Regions from separate parts of the Homo sapiens genome. Here region 2 is linked to region 1. Evidence: fine-mapped expression QTL. Tissue or cell type: macrophages. Region 1 holds a variant in brackets; the other region holds the start of a gene. All regions are shown on one strand. Distances are from middle to middle.

Region 1 (8,107 bases):
CAGCATTGGTGGGGATGTGTGCAGAACCACAGTGAGGCACACCTTGGTATTGTTCATCTGAAATTAATATTTCTTCAAAGACAGACCTTACTGGTGTTTGTTCCTCTCCCTATGTATAATGGGATATCTCTAGAGGACAGGATGGTCCTAGAGCTGCCTTGAACAGTTTTATCTCCCTCCTGCCATCCGATGCTTTAACCTCCTGCTCCAGTGCAGTCTTCTAGTTCTGTAGGATCAATTTCTTTGCAATCGGTATTATAGCACAAGCTGCAGCAGTTTATTTATCTAAGAGAGAATGCGTCTAGGTTGCTATCCTCAGAGATAGTGTGTATAAGGCAACATTTGAGGCCTCCATGACTCAATTCTTGCCTAATCTTTGCCTGGTCTCTGATCCATTAGGACCTAGAAATTACATTGACTGATATACTGAGATGATGGCAAACTCACCTTTGCTCTCCACATTCACGATTGCTGTGGGATGTATGTTTGTGACTCACTCAAGCCATTTAGAATGGAAGCCCAAGTCACAGTAGAGGAAGGCCATTGTTACTGAACTGAACATGGGTCAGTTAATCTGCCTGCCCATGCAGCAAAGCCAAATACTAACACTGGGATTGATTTGCAGTGAGGAAAAGTGAAGCATTTATTGCAGGGTGCTATGCAAGGAGAATTGGGCAGCTAATCTTAAAACCCAAACCCCTTGATGGCTTCCATGTAAGAGTTTTTAAAGGCAGGGAGGCAGAGGTTCCAGGCAGAGCCATAAATCAATACATGGAGGCTATTGGTTTGACCTAAAAAGGGGGAGACATCTTGAAGTGGGGGTCCACAGGTTACAGGTAGATTCAAAGATTTCCCGATCTGCGATTGGTTAAGATTTGTTTAAAAACTTGGGGTCAGCAGAAAGGAATGTTGAACTCTGGCCTGTAGGTATAACTTCTGCCAGGCCCCTCAGGAAGAAATTTAGAATGAAGAACAGTGGTCAGATTTCAGTCTCCAGTTCCCCCTTCCCCAAGGTCTGTTGTGCCAGTGGATGGTGTTTTCCATTTGGTGGCGGGGGGGTGTGGGGGCTGTGGGCAGGTTTCTGCAAAACAGCTCAGGGACATATGTTAAGATGTTATTTTTAGTTTCTATTGGGACTCTAACTTCTTTGGCTATTGTTTCAAGCTATTATTACCTCCTTGCTTATCAGATTGCCTGCCACCCTCCACCAAGCATGGAAATAAAGGAAAATCTTGCGTTTCTTCAATGGAAATTCCAGGCACCTAGCTAGTCCTGAGAATTAAATGAGCAACTTGATAAGTAAGAGAGTAATAGTAGCTTAAAATAATAGCTAAAGAAGTTATAGTCATAAGATGTTTGGTTCTCTACAGAAGCTAAAGATAACATCTTGACATATGACCCTGAGTTTACTTTTCAGAAACTCGGACCTCCACCAAATGGAAATCTTTCTTGCACAAGGTCCAGGAACCTTCTCTTGGGATCTGGATTGGGATCCCTTTCCAGTAACAATATCAGGTCATCGGGACATTTCCTGGGTCTGTTCAGTAAACATTATTAACCTGTTCCCTTAACTGAAACTGTGTCTAAGAATGACTAATCTTCTGGGAATGTAAGATGGAGTTGCTCTGGTTCAAAGGCCTTGGACGCCTCTGACAGTATTAGTGAAGTGTTTTTTTTTTTTTTTTGGACTGTTAGCTTGTTAGGAACTAACAAGACCCTCCCTAACTCATCTACTCATCTTTCAGGACTCAGCTTCACTTGTTCTGAGGGTTTCCCGTGACACCTCCACACCCACACTGAAATATGGCTTCCCCTCTCCTGTAGTTCCGAAGCCTGTTTGGACAAGGGACACCTAAATTAGAGTTACTATCACATTGTGTCACAATTTGTTCACAACTATTTTCTCTTCCACTAGAAGGATTCTTGTTAGGGCAGATATCGACCTAAAAGAAAGAATCCCAGGCAAAATAGATATAACTAGAGGGTTTATTTGGGCCAAGCTTGAGGATTGCAACCTGGGAGCATAGATTCAGTTTTCTGCAGTTACAAGCTGTAGCAGCAGTTACAAGCAGGTTTTTAAAGAAAAGAAGAGGCAGTTTCTAAGTTGTTTACCAAGAATTTACATTAAAAATAACATAAGTTATTGATTGGCTATATGTTGTTTCTTTGTATTAAAATTCCAGGAACATGAAGATAATAGGTGAGGCAGGTAGTCAGGAACAAAATGCCTTTAAACAATTGCCCCCACAGATGGGTTTGGGGGTCACATGACTGAAATCTTAGACTCCTGTCTTTTTGGGCCTGATAAATTTTTCGAACCTCCCGTAGTGCAGACTGCTCTGAGCTATTTTTCTGTTCTCACAGAGACCAGGTCTCAGTTACCTTGGGGTCCCCAATGCCTTGCAGAGGGGTTGATACAGAATTGGGGCTTGGAAAATGGTGAAGAATGTGTGAAATGTCCCAGAGACATGTCCTGATTAAGAGCCTGAACTCCTTTGATCTTGGACCCTACACTTCCCAAGTGTCATATAAGGGGTAGGAAATTTTCACACCCAGTGACCTGGAGGACAGACTAAAAGGGTAAAGAGATGAAGAGCAGAGCGTCTCTTCTCATTGGGATGACAGTTTGCTAAGGAGAAAATGGGGCTGGAGTGAGTGTTAAAAGACCCTAAGTGTCTGGCTGCTCCTTGGGTCTTGGAGATTCTGAGATAACAAGAACCATGTAGCCCTGAAACTGATCCAGATCGGGTTCATTGTTCTACTACTCCTTTCTTGTAAATGCCCTGATTGTTGGAAGGACTTCTTATGATGTCAGTCTATAAAAAAGCGGAGGCCAAAAGTCTTTACTGGATACCCATTATGTGCAAAGAAGATACTATACTCCCCTGATAGCAAGAGATACATTATTTTAGGGAGTGTTTCTCTTGCTGATGCCAACAGCCTATTCCAGGATCCAGTTTTGGCTGTGGAGCATTCATCACTTGGAAATGAATTGTTAGAATGACTTTTACAACTAGAGTTGCCAATAGTCTGGCTTGGTGTTAGGCTGTCTGGTTTAAAGCTGGGTCATCTAGTTCTGGAACACATGGTTCAGATAGTATTTGAAAGGGCAAATTAAATGCAAATCACCTGGTTTTGGTGAGTGGGCTTGCATAACAACAAGCCCTGTAGGATCTATTGTTCTTGCTTGTGTCTGAGTGTCTGCACTGAAAGGGATATTCAGGAGAGCCCTTGAGGGAAAGTCCAGATCACTGTCAGGAGCTGGTTCCCAGAGGTGACATTTAGCACCCATAAATTTAGGTATCTTTTTTTTTCTTTTTAAAAATCTTACCAGCTTAATTGTAATGTAGTGGTGGATTTATATTACTTTAAGTTTAATTCCTGAAATTTTATTAGTAGAGTAGAAAAGTCCTCTACTTCTAAATCCGGGTCTCTATCTGTGGCTTAACTTCTAACTTCTTGTTTGCATTCTCTTATTCTCTTTTTGTTCTTTTCATGAGTTAGTTGAGTAATAAGTAAAACTTAATTGTGAGTCTTTTCATGGAGGATGGAAAATCCCACACAGGAAAGG[G/A]CACTACCAACAATGGGTCAGTCGTTTATGTTGGCCAATGTAAAGAAACCTCCTTTATTTCATAAAAGGTTAAGTAATTGGTGGGGAAATTGGGGTGGGGGAGGAGTTGAGTTACCTTCTCTTGGTGAACTTCGGCCCAATACACAGTGGAAAGTGCCAGATAATAAATGAAACTACAAGAGGTTAGAAAACTATACTTTCTTTTTAGATATTAAAGGCTATGAGGGCATATGTTACTTCAAAGACTTGTTGGATCTGTTTTTGAATGGGAGGCAAATTGGTTTCAATCACTAGAGAGAAGGGGGCGTGGTGGCCCAGGAACATTATTAGTGTACTGTACTCCTGTCACCTGCTGAGGTAAGGAGGTTCTGAATAACTGCTCTGGGGTGCAGGAAGAAAATACTAAAACTTTGAATTATCTTTATTGATATCATCCCTTTAAAATGTCTGTTTATGCTGTTTTATGGTGTATGGAAAGGATATGCTTGGGGAATACTGCCCTAGAGAGAGGAGAAGACAGATGGTTGGATCAGGATGAAAAAAACTGGAGATGTGGAGTAGCTCAGAATTCAAAGGTCTCATAACTGCCCAGTGGGTTCTCATTGCCTGCTGCCTGGACAGAGCCAATTTATTAAGACAGGGGAATTGCAACAGAGAAAGAGTTTAATTTACACAGAGGCAGCTGTATGGGAGACAGGAGTTTTATTATTACTCAAATCAGTCTCCCTGAAAATTTGGGGATTGGGGTTTTTAAGGATAATTTTGTGGGTAGGGGGTCAGAAAGTGGGGAATGCTGATTGGTCGAGTTGAAGATGAAATCACAGGAGGTTGAACTGGGTTTTCCTTGCTGTCTTCTGTTCCTGGTTAATTCTGTAAACCATTCAGGAGCAATATGGGGAGGTTCAGAATCTTGCAGCCTCTGGCTGCATGACTCCTAAGCCATAATTTTTAATCCTGTAGCTAATTTGTTAGTCCTACAAAGGCAGACTGGTCCCTAGGTAAGAAGGGGGTTTGTTTGGGGAAGGGCTGTTACCATCTTTGTTGCAAAGTTAAACTATAAACTAAATTTTTCCCAAAGTTAGTTCAGCCTATGCCCAGGAATGACAAGGACAGCTTGGAGGTTAGAAGCAAGATGGAGTCAGTTAGGTCAGATGTCTTTCACTGTCATAATCTTCTCACTGTTATAATTTTTGCAAAGGTGGCTTCAGTCTCCTATCTGTTCTGATAAAGAAAATGTAGTCGCATTTGGATTCTGGAGAGATAGTAAAGAAGATACTGACCTTTGTTAGACAATGGCTTATGTGACAGGTGCTGGGTTGTGTGCTATTTATTCTTATTCTATCACTGCATATACAATTTTCATATGAATGCATACTTTTATCCATTTGTTATTTATTTAATGAATATCTCATTTAATCTTCACAAACAGCTTGAGAAGAAGGTTTTAATCTTCCCAATTTTGCAACCAGGAAGTTAAGGCTTAAGGTGGGTGAGTAATTTACACAATGTTCTATGATTTACACTTCAGCAATTCTCATTCTTTAGTGAGTAGGTTTGCAGTGTAGACTCCAGTGTAGACTTTAGGAGATTCAAGTGGGCTTCTAGTCTGCTTGGAGCAGGTGGATAGTTCAAGAATATGCTTATAGAATTATGAAATACTTTGTTCTGATTTTCTTTCATTATTTAGTGCATATTCCCAAATTGCAATTTTAGGCCAGAGCTACTTCTCTGCTGTTTAGGCTGACACCAAGGACTTGGTTTGACATTTCAATCAACTCAATCTTCCCTTGTTGGCCTTAAAAGCAAGCAAGCAAACAAACAGACAAACACAACAAAACCTAAAACTTCTGTTATGACTAAATTCCAGGTAATCAATTAAATCTTAATTTATTTTATTGTTATTAAATTGAATTGACATAAAGTGACTAAATCTACTATTTGTCAATCCCATTCTCAATGTCAGAGACTTAAATTGCAGAATCTCCTCATCTGCACATCTGATTCCTTCCAGCAGCTGATAAGCATCACAGGAGCAGGAATCATATTTTGTTCATCTTTTCTATGTCCCACAAAGTGTCTAGCAGAGTATTTGCATTTGTTGAATGAAAATATGTTAGATCAATTTCTTCCAACTGTAGATTTCAAACTATAGGCCAGGCCATCCCACTTGTTACAGGTAGTTAATCTGTTTATCTAAAACCATAATTCATTGGCTTTCTTAGCTATCTTGGCAGTTAGGCAAGAGATATTTACAGGTTCTAAGAAACATAAGATGCTATTTATTCCGTTGTATATTAGACTTATAGTTGTGTGGTTTCAGATTCTTAAGAATAAAAATTTCCATCTCTTCGTTTTGATGAAATGTGTGTAAAGTTGGAGAACAAGGTAAAAGAGTGAGTAAATTCAGAATTCTTTTTTTCTCTCAAATGCTCAGATACTTAATTAAAATTCCTTTAATATGATCACGAGATTTTTGTCAGGACAAGTTGAGATGATCCTTGAGAAAGCACTTTGAAAACTCTAGACTACAGACATAAAGGACGTTTGTCAAAAGTAAGGCTTTAAAACAAAATAAGGCCTCTTGAAAACACAGACCTGGCGTTCTGACAGTGCACATACTGCCTAATAGGGATGAAAGTTTAAGCTCTGTTTAGCTACCTTTGTATAATGGGAATAAAAGGTTTTTTTTTTCTTGTATCCTAAATCGAGAATTTAAACTGTTTTCTGATTAGCAAGGGTTTGCAGTCACACTAGTAATAGTCCTCTATAAGATGGACATCCTTCTCTGTTCCCCGTCTTTCTACTCCTTATGAAGAAAAAGTAGAAATTTTTGAAAAAGTTGTGCTAGGTATACATAACATGACATTTATCATTTTAACTACCTTTAAGTGTACAGTTCAGTGGCTTTAAGTACATTCACAGTGTTGTATAACTATCACCATTATCCATCTCCAGGACTTTTCCATCATCCCAATCTGAAACCCTGTACCCATTAAACAATACCTTCCCATACTCTCTTCCTGCAGCCCTTGGTAGCCTCTACTCTTTCTGTCTCTGTGAATTCACCTATTCTTCTTGCTGAGCCTTGCTGTTATCATTATTCATTCGACATTATTCATTATTCATGAGTGCTTATTATGGACACCAGGAGTTCAACAGTAAACAAAAGTCCCTGCTCTCAAGGAGCTTTTATTTTAGTGGGAGGGAGACAATAAACAGCGAGCACATTTAAAATATTTTTTAAAAATGAGATTATCTTATACACAATTCTTCTGCAACTTGATCTTTTCACTTGACAGTACATCTTGGACATCTTTTTCTATGTCAGTCTGAAGAGGCCTATCTCTTATTTATAATAGCTAAATTTATTGAGTCTCTACTTTGCTCCAGGCACTGTTTTAGTTGCAACAATCCTATGAGGTAAGTTCTATAATGATCATCTTTTTACAGATGGCCCAGATAAGTGTAGGAGCTTGCATAGTCACCTGGCCAGTCACTGGTGGAGACAGAACTAAACTCAGATGACCTGATTCCTTACTCCAATTCTACCCTCTTTTGAATGGCTACATAGTACTCTTTTGTATCAATATACCTTAACTTATTTAGGCAGTCTCTTATATGTAAGCCATTTTTAGGTGTTTTTTTGTTGTTGCTATCATAGTGCTATAATTAACATATTTAGAGATATGTTTGCACGTGTGTGTGGTTTTCTATAAGGTAAATTCCTAAGAAATAAAAACACATACACATTTCAATACTTGATAGGCACTACTATACTCAGTTTCCTTTAAAAAATATTTTACCAATTTATATTCCCACTAACAGTATAGGAAAAGGAAAAGGCCCTGATTTCCTTATATCTTCTTTAACAAAGGGAATTACCAAACTTATATTTGCCCCATATGATAGGTTTAAAAATGGTATAGAGGTGATACTTAAAAATGTTTTTCACTTAAAAGTGTTTTTTATTTTAAATATTTTAAAGAGATGATTGCTTCCTGCTCTAAGCTGTTCTTGGTCCTCTTTTATCATGTAAGAAAGAAAGCCATCTCTCTTATTTCCAGAAATCTGTAGTTTCTTGTTACTGTGGAACCTTGGTAGGAAAAGGCCCTTGTTTCTGTGAAAACCTGAGGGCCCAGCGTGAGGATGTTCCAGGAGAGTGGAGTTGATGGTGCGCAGGGGATTAGCTTGCTCTGGTTATAGAGACATGATTAAAATCTATTTGATTTCAGTACTTAACTGGCAAATCTGATGCAACTTCTGGAAAATTCCTAGATGGCTTTAGGCATATTTAAAAGAAGCCATATTTTTCCTTTTAAAAATAGATATGCACCAAAATATTTTATTTTCATCTAATCCCGCTTTAACAACCAGAATCCCCTTAAAAGCAATTCCAAACTAAAAGATGTAAATCCATTTCCTATGTGCATTTGTTCTTTGGTACCATCAGGGTTAATGTTTGCATCCTCTGTGCTGAAATTAAGGATGTTGGGAAAGAAGTGTCATTGCTTTGCCTACTAAATGTCACTTGAGTAT
Region 2 (8,107 bases), 59 kb before region 1:
CTTTCTGTAACTATAGTAAAATTGAAAAGAGTAATTGAGTACTGAAATTCCTGATAGGGTTGAGTCCTGTTAAGTGTTATAAAGAAACCCCCAAATTCATAACAACTGGATCAATCCTCATGATAAATGCCTCTGTGCTGGTCCTTTACATATACTGCAGAATTTGACTGACAGATGGAGCTCAAGAGCTCTTACTAGTCCACAAGCCCTGGGCTGAAACTCAAAATATGGAATCAAACTGACATTTATGTATCATGTTCAAGATGGTGTGATAGAATAAACAGTGCCTCGTAAGTGAGAAAAAAATATTTGGGTTCTATCTCTACCTTTCTGTTCCTAACTATCCACTTGATCATGGGCAATTCATATCATCCCTCTAGGCCTTTGTTTATACAGCTATAAGACAATGAGAAGGCCAGTAGCAGTGGCTCACGCCTCTAATCCCAGCACTTTGGGAGGACGAGGCAGGTGGATCACGAGGTCAAGAGATGGAGATCATCCTGGCCAACATGGTGAAACCCCATCTCTACTGATAATAACAAAAATTAGCTGGGCATGGTGGTGGGCATCTGTAGTCCCAGCTACTTGAGGGGCTGAGGTAGGAGAATGGCTTGAACCTGGGAGGCGGAGGTTGCCGTGAGTCGAGATCGCGCCACGGCACCTCCAGCCTGGGCAACAGAGCGAGACTGTCTCAAAAACAAACAAACAAACAAACAAACAAACAACAATGAAAAACAATGGGAAACTAGACTGTTTCTCAAAGCCTAGTCCTCAGACCATTTGTTTCAAAATCACCTAGGGTTGGCGGTGGGGTTTCTTATAAAAATACACATTCCTGGGCCCCAACATAGTCTTACTGAATCAGCATTTTTGGGGATGATCTCAGAAATTTTATTTTTTTGTTTTGAGACAGGGTCTCACTCTATCACCCAGGCCGGAGTGTAGTGGCACAGTCAGAGCTCAGTGCAGCCTCAACCTCCCGGGCTCAAGCAATCCTTTCACCTCAGCCTCCCCAGTAACTGGGACCACAGGTGCTCACCATCATGCCCAGTTAATTTTTGTATTTTTTTTTTTTGTAGAGATGGGGTTTCATCATGTTGCCCAGGCTAGTCTCGAACTTCTGGGCTCAAGTGATCCTCCCTCCTCCACTTCCCAAAGTGCTAGGATTACAGGAGTGAGCCATAGTGTCCAGCCTCAGAATGTTTTTAAAAGTAAGCTTCCGGCCAGGCGTGGTGGCTCACGCCTGTAATCCCAGCACTTTGGGAGGCCAAGGCCGGCAGATCACGAGGTCAGGAGATCAAGACCATCCTGGCTAACACGGTGAAACCCTGCCCCTACTAAAAATACAAAAAATTATCCGGGCGTGGTGGCGGGTGCCTGTAGTCCCAGCTATTCAGGAAGCTGAGGCAGGAGAATGGCGTGAACCAGGGAGGTGGAGCTTGCAGTGAGCCGAGATCACGCCACAGCAGCCTGGCCTGGGCGAAAGAGCGAGATTCCGTCTCAAAAAAAAAAAAAAAAAAAAAAAAAAGTAAGCTTCCTAGGTGATTCTTGGGCTTATTAAAGTTTCTTCTGTAAACTTTTTTTTTTAAAGTATAACACATTCATTAAACTTACAGGATTATAGGGTTAGAATATCTCTAAGGTCCCTTCCAACACCAAAGAATTCTAAGAATCAGTCCATTCAACATATTTTCCCATGGGCATGTTTAGTAAACATGCAACTCTGTGACAGACTGTAATTTTGCTTCATGTGCAAAGGTATCTCAGTGATTTGGAAAAACTGATTTTTTTTCAAATATGTGGCCTCCCTCAGAGGTCAGTTGACGGTCCAGAGAGTGCCTTAGGTCCACTGTAAAGTCTGGTTCACGTTTGAGTTTAATATAGAAATTCCCATATATTCTCTATGTAAACACATAGCTCTATGGCAGACAACTGTTAGCTGGGTGGGAAGAGGGTATCTGGTTGTAATTCTGACTTTATTGCAGAATCAAACTGTATTATGGTCATTTAATCCTGAACTTCTTTGTCAACAAAACTCCAAACCCTGTGACCTCCCTCTCAGGGGACCTGGGATACTAAAGTGATAAACAGAATTTAAATGCTTCCTGAAGTGGTACAAAGATCACTGTGTTAATAATTTCCCTCCAAGCAAGCTGGTAAAGTAATAGGCTTAGGAGAGTCTTCTAGTTACAAAGTAGTGAAGTTATCGCTTTTCTCAGGCAGCTAGAAATTAATGGGAATTTTCTTGAAAGGACCATCTCTTCCAAATAATTTAGCCACCTTTAAACTTGTCTTTTTTTTATTCTGTTTTTTGAGATGGAGTCTCACTCTGTCCCCCAGGCTGGAGTGCAGTGGCATGATCTCGGCTCACTGAAACCTCTGCCTCCTGGGTTCAGGTGATTCTCCTGCCTCAGCCTCCCAGGTAGTTGGGATTACAGGCACGCGCCACCATGCCCAGCTAATTTTTTTTTTTTTAGTCGAGACGGGGTTTTTGCTATGTTGGCCAGGCTAGTCTTGAACTCCTAACCTCAAGTGATCCACCTGCCTCGGCCTCCCAAAGTGCTGGGATTACAGGCTTGAGCCACTGCGCCCAGCCTAAAATTTGGCTTTCTGCTTTTAAACTTTTATACAAAGCCTATATTTTTTGGATTATTTATTTCATGCCACATGAAGCAGGTGTGTAAGATTCCTGGTTTCTCACAAGTGAATTAACCTTTCATCTTTCTGTAACCCGCTTAGCTTGCCTCAGTTTCCCCAGCTATGAAATGAAGGGGTAGAGCAAGTGGACACTTCATCCCTTCCAGCACACTTAACAGTTTACATCCATGCAGAGGAAAACAATAAGATGTAGGAAAGAGGCTGGGTGTGGTGGCTCACACCTGTAATCCCAGCACTTTGCGAGGCCAAGGTGGGTGGATCGCTTGATCTCAGGAGTTTGAGACCAGCCTGGGCAACATGGTGAAACCCTGTTTCTACCAAAAATAACAAAAAATTAGCTGGGCATGGTGGTGCATGCCTGTGGTCCCAGCTACTTGAGAGGCTGAGCTGGGAGGATCGCTTGAGCCTGGGAGGCAGAGGTTACAGTGAACTGAAATAGCGCCACTGCACTCCAGCCTGGGCAACAGAACGAGACTGTCAAAAAAAAAAAAAAAAAAGATGTAGGAAAGAGCATGGCTTCGAAGTTGGATAGAGCTAGGTTGGAATTTTAAGCCTCAGTTTTCTCAACTGTATAATGGTGGTGGTGGTGGTGGGGATAGTGATATGTTATCTCCCGGGGTAATAAAAGCATCTACTATAGGGCTTAGCACAGAAATGCATTCTAGAAAGCTGAGGCTCCTCGGCTCCCTCGACCCCTACCCTGTCACCCAGGTCTTTCAGCCCACTCCTGTGTAGGCCTCTTCTTACTGACTGAGAGAAGGAACCCTTGGTCCTTATTCAAGTGCAGAGACAAGCTCTCTGGGAGGGGAAAGCCATCAGCCCTGTGAGTAACAGGTTCTCTGTCACTTCCTGACCTTGTCATCACTTAAGTTACTGTTTCAAGTCTGGCTGAAATGTGGCAGGAGCTAACCACAGAACTGAAAGGGTCACTATTGTGATAGATGCAGTGGGGGCTCACAACGGTCCTGTAGCAGATCCCCAGTATCTTCTCCCTGGGGATCAGGTGGGGTCACCTTTGTTCTGCAGGGAGGGGACAGGATGCTAACAGCAGTTGAGAGCTGGAAGCAACATTGAAGCCTGCCTCATTAGAGAGGAGCAAACCAAGGGACAGAGAGGAGAAGTGACTTTCCCATGATCACACAGCCAGTCAAGCAGCAGAGGTGAGAAGAGCCCCTCTGGATCCACTAGAGTTCGCACTCAAGATCCTCTGCATTTTAATGCAGATGTTATAAGTATTGATTAAGAGCTTGGAATTTGGAGATAGATGGCTGGGCATGAGGCTTCACCTCTCAGGACCTCAGTGGTCTCATCTATAAAAGTCCTATAACAAAGCCTACCCATTGTGAGGATTAAAAACCACACTGCCTGTAGAGTGCTTAACACAGAACCTAGCACATTATCAGCTTCCACAACAGGTGGTCCTAAAAGATCATTATTTGCGATTCAAGGAAACACTGCCAACCTTTTTCTATACCTACAGTTCCGATCTGAACCTCCCTCTGCGAACCCCTTATGCCACGCTGTGGCTCGTCAGTCAAGGCGCCGAGAAGCCCTGGTGCCAGGGCAGGGCGATCCTCGGGGCTCACCTGGCGACACCAGCAGCACCTTCGCCCCGCAGCACTGGAAGCAGTGCAGCAGGGACTTCGCGCGGATGTTGTAATTGAGGCACGCCATGGCACAGCCCAGCTTCACCAGCCCCAGCCACAGCCACACGTAGGCCGGCTCGTTACCCATAAGGAGCGCCACGCAGTCTCCCTGGCGCAGGCCGAGGTGGTCGTGCAGCGCCCGGGCCACTTGATTGCTGCGCCGGTCCACCTGCGCGTAGGTGAGAGTCTCGTCGCGGAAGAGCAGAAAAGGCTTGTGTGGCGTCTGGCGCGCTTTCTCCAGGAACGCCCGCAGGATGGTGCGCGCCGGCCGCCGCTTCCCGTAGCTGCGCACCCTCCGGCCCACGGCGGCCACCTTCAAGAAGTAGCCTATGTCCTGGAAGAAGTATGGGCAGCAGAGGTTCACCAGGAGCGGCAGGAACAGCAGTCCCGCCAGGACTGTGTAGATGGCGGAAAGCATGACGGCTGCGGGGCCCTCTGTCCCAGCGAGGGCAGAGGGTTCACCCCGGGCGTGCAGCGCGGCGACTGGGCGGGCTCCGGGCGGACTGGCGGGCTGCGCCGGGGCGCACGCGGCGGGACGCCGGGCTCGCGTGAGATGAAGGGGAAGACAGAGCTCCTCCGCTGCAGGTACCGCCGCGGGCTCCGGAGCAGGTGTAGTCGTATGCGCGTTGCCGGGGGTTCCGGGCAGGACTGGCCGGCTGAGCCCGCCCCCTTGTGGGGGGCAGCCACCTGCTCTCCCGGCCCTCCCACGCGGTCCTCCCGGGGCTGGGCAGGCTGCCCTGCGGCTCACCAGGAGCCTCGGCCACTTCCCAGCTCGAGTCTGGAGGTCTGGGGTCAAGTCTGGACCTCCTCGCGTTGTGACCGAAGTACTTTACCTCTAGGAGCCACGGTTTCTTTAAATGGTGATGAGACGCGCTTAGCGGACGTTGGGAATATTAAAGGAGATATTGCAGGCGTGGGGCTATTATTTGTTACCACTAATAGAATGGCTTATGGAGATGACACTGTTATTACCGATAAAGTGCCTTATAAATGTCAGACAGTCCTATTATTTATTAATAGCGGGTACCAGGTGCCACTGCCAAACCAGAATCTCATCTCTCCTTCCTGGTCCCAAGGGCTTTCCGCCTGGTCTCTCTTTGTTTCTCAGATTTGCTTCCCAGCCCGACTGCCAGGCGGTCTCCTGTAGCGAAGGCTTCAAGGTTGAACAGAAATGCCTGTGGCAGTCACGTCCAGCTCATCCCAAGCCCTGCCAGGTGAGTGAGGGCAGGACACTCTAACCTAGTCGGCCCTGCCTGGTCGGGGGAGTCCTGATTTCGTGAAGAGCAGTGCTACACCGCACCACCTGAAATCAAGCTTTGACATTATTTTACGATTTTGTTCTGTTAAGTGATCCTGCTGTTCCCTCATGTTGAAAGTTGTCAAGTGTTGTCAGCACAGTTCACACATTTAATAAGTGGCTCTGTCAGAGAATAGTATAGTACAGAGGACATTGAGTAAGTGGTATTGGCATGACTCAAAAACCATTTCTTTTAGAGGAAATGTGAACCTTTCTTTTAATTTGCCTTAGTGCTACTTCTGTACGAAGTGAATGCTCACTACTTGCCACTGAGGAGGGTCAGGATCTAAGTAGTGTTTTATTTTCATCCTCTACTGTCCTCCTGTGTTCCTCTATCTTAATTTGATACGATAAATACAGATAATGCTTATTCCTCCCAGACACGCTGCTAGGAGCTTCCCTATGTTACATTTTGGGAGCCTGAGTTATTTTATACAGGTGGCACTTTCATGCTCATTTACAGACAAGAAAGGGAAGCTTAGGTGAATTGAGACAGCCGGTAAGTAATTCGTGGGTTTTGGAAATGGTATCTGTTTGGTCCCGGGGAACCAACTCTTAGCTTATTCTTAGTAACTATACTATGCTGTCCTCCTATTCTCTAGGTTTCTGTCCATGTCCTCTTTTTTTTTCGGTGTGTGTAAAACACACAAAAATGTTTCACATTCCCTCCAGGCCACCCCCTGCCGTTTTTTAGCCTCCTTTTCGTATCCCTAGTAACTGCGCAAGCAACCTTTCCCTTTTCCTGACTTTTTCATTTCTGATCCAGCTACCTGGTTGCATCATTTCCCTGGGGATGAGCTGGGGGCCTTCATCATCCCTGAGGAGAAAGCAGTAGAATTAACCAAAGTGAGGGCCCGACAGAAACCATTCTCATGTGCACTTCTTTCATGGTGAAGCTCAGAGCCAGCCCTTCCTTTTTCATCCCAATGCCACCCTCGTCCCTTGATGGCTAATCGCTTCTGTGTAGCCACCTGCACCCCTCTTCTCTTTTCCTTGAACAGCTACTGTCTACCCAGAGTGCTAGATTACCACAAGGGTCCACTTTTTCCCCTCTTATTCTGAGGATCACTTTAACCTCAGTTACAAGTAAAAGAAAACAAGACCCAAGCTAGCTGAAGCAGAAACAGGAATTTAAGTAGTAACTGGAGAGTCCGGGGCTAAGACATCAAGGATTTTAAATGCTGACACCTGGATCTAGTTTTGCTTTCACTATTTCTCCTCTGCACCTCCTCTGTTCTCATTCAGGCTCTCTGGTTTTTGTCCAAAGATGGCTGCCAACAGCCCTTAGGGGTACATGCTTTCTGGCTCAACTTCAGAGAGAAGTACAGGAATCTTTTTCTTAGGAGTTCTCATAAAAAAAAAAATCCCTGACTGGATTATGCGCCCATTTCTGAACCAATGTCTGTGGGTCCTGGGGAAAAAGGTGCTAGTTGTTTTAAGCCAATCAGCGCTCACCCATGGGGGTGAGAGTATAATCAATTTCACCTAGGCCATTTTGTGGAACGTTTTACGGTATTATTAAAAAGTGGGGTTAGGGAGAGTAAATTTGGGGAAGTAATTTTCAAATGTCTATAATATATACCTTGGGAGTCCCAGTGATTCCAGCTTTGAGCCTGGGATCCAGCTCTTGCTTTATCACGAGGTTAATAGATGTCTTAGTCTGTTTGGGCTGCTATAACAAAATACTGTAAGCTGGGTAGTTTATAAACAACAGAAATTTATTTCTCAGACTTCTGGAGGCAAGTCTAAGATCAAGGTGCCAGCAGATGTGGTGTTTGGTGAAGGGCTACTTTCTCACAGATGGTGCCTTCTCACTGTGTACTGTTTGGTAGAAGGGACAAATTACCTCTCTGGGGCCTGTTTTATGAGGGCACTAATCCCATTCATGAGGGCTCTGCCCTATGATCAAATTACTCCCCAAAGGCTCTACCTCCTAATACCATCACATTGAGGGTTAGGATTTCAATATATGAATTTTGTAGGGGACATGAACATTAAAACCACAGCAATAGTCTTCCTGGAAATATTGCTGCCATCTTATATCTCCACTGCTCAATTATCTTTAGTGGTTCCCCATTGCTTCCTATTGTCTTCCACCAATGACATCTATAGACAGTTGTACTTGTACAGCATACTAGAACATACCTGGCCTAGAGTTGACCAGATGCCCTGGCTTCTGCCTGACTCCTTTGAAAGGTGATCGATAGCTTAGCACGTTGGCTGCCCATTCTTGGTACATCTCTTGGGAACCTCTGGTCTATAAAATGAAATTTAAACTTTATTTTCTGGCTCTTCTGAATCTCACTCAAGCTTTCACTACACTCAATTGACAAATATTTATTGAGTTTCTGCTATGAACCAAACATTATTAGGTATTAAATATTTTAAAATGGACCAAAACTTAATTCTAACTGTTCCTTTTCAAGCGCACTTTGTTTTTAGCAAGTCTGGTCTGCACACTCCTAAAAATGCCCTGCACCTTCCTCTTTCTACTGGCTTGTTCTTA

Direction of the effects. Positions count from the first base shown, and alleles are read on the strand shown. Sizes are in standard deviations (SD) of each study's normalised expression.
For the expression in macrophages of the gene that starts at base 4,954 in region 2, allele A in region 1 goes with a higher level than allele G (moderate effect, 0.52 SD a copy in Alasoo 2018).

The links. PIP is the estimated chance that this variant, and not a neighbour inherited with it, causes the effect.
Region 2: it holds the start of SLC27A2, and the variant in region 1 is fine-mapped to the expression of SLC27A2 in macrophages (Alasoo 2018, PIP 0.95).

What each region holds. Positions count from the first base shown.
Region 1 is chr15:50,119,819-50,127,925 of GRCh38, reverse strand. It overlaps a transcript of ATP8B4 not described here. Among named protein-coding and RNA genes, the nearest start is that of ATP8B4, 4.6 kb to the right of the region's middle. The variant G/A (reference allele first, on the strand shown) is at 3,572.
Region 2 is chr15:50,179,043-50,187,149 of GRCh38, reverse strand. It overlaps SLC27A2 (solute carrier family 27 member 2), which reads right to left and starts at 4,954. Exons shown (of 10, transcript NM_003645.4): 1 at 4,245-4,954. The coding sequence starts at 4,722. It also overlaps a transcript of ATP8B4 not described here. RefSeq lists silencers at 4,353-4,452, 4,723-5,062.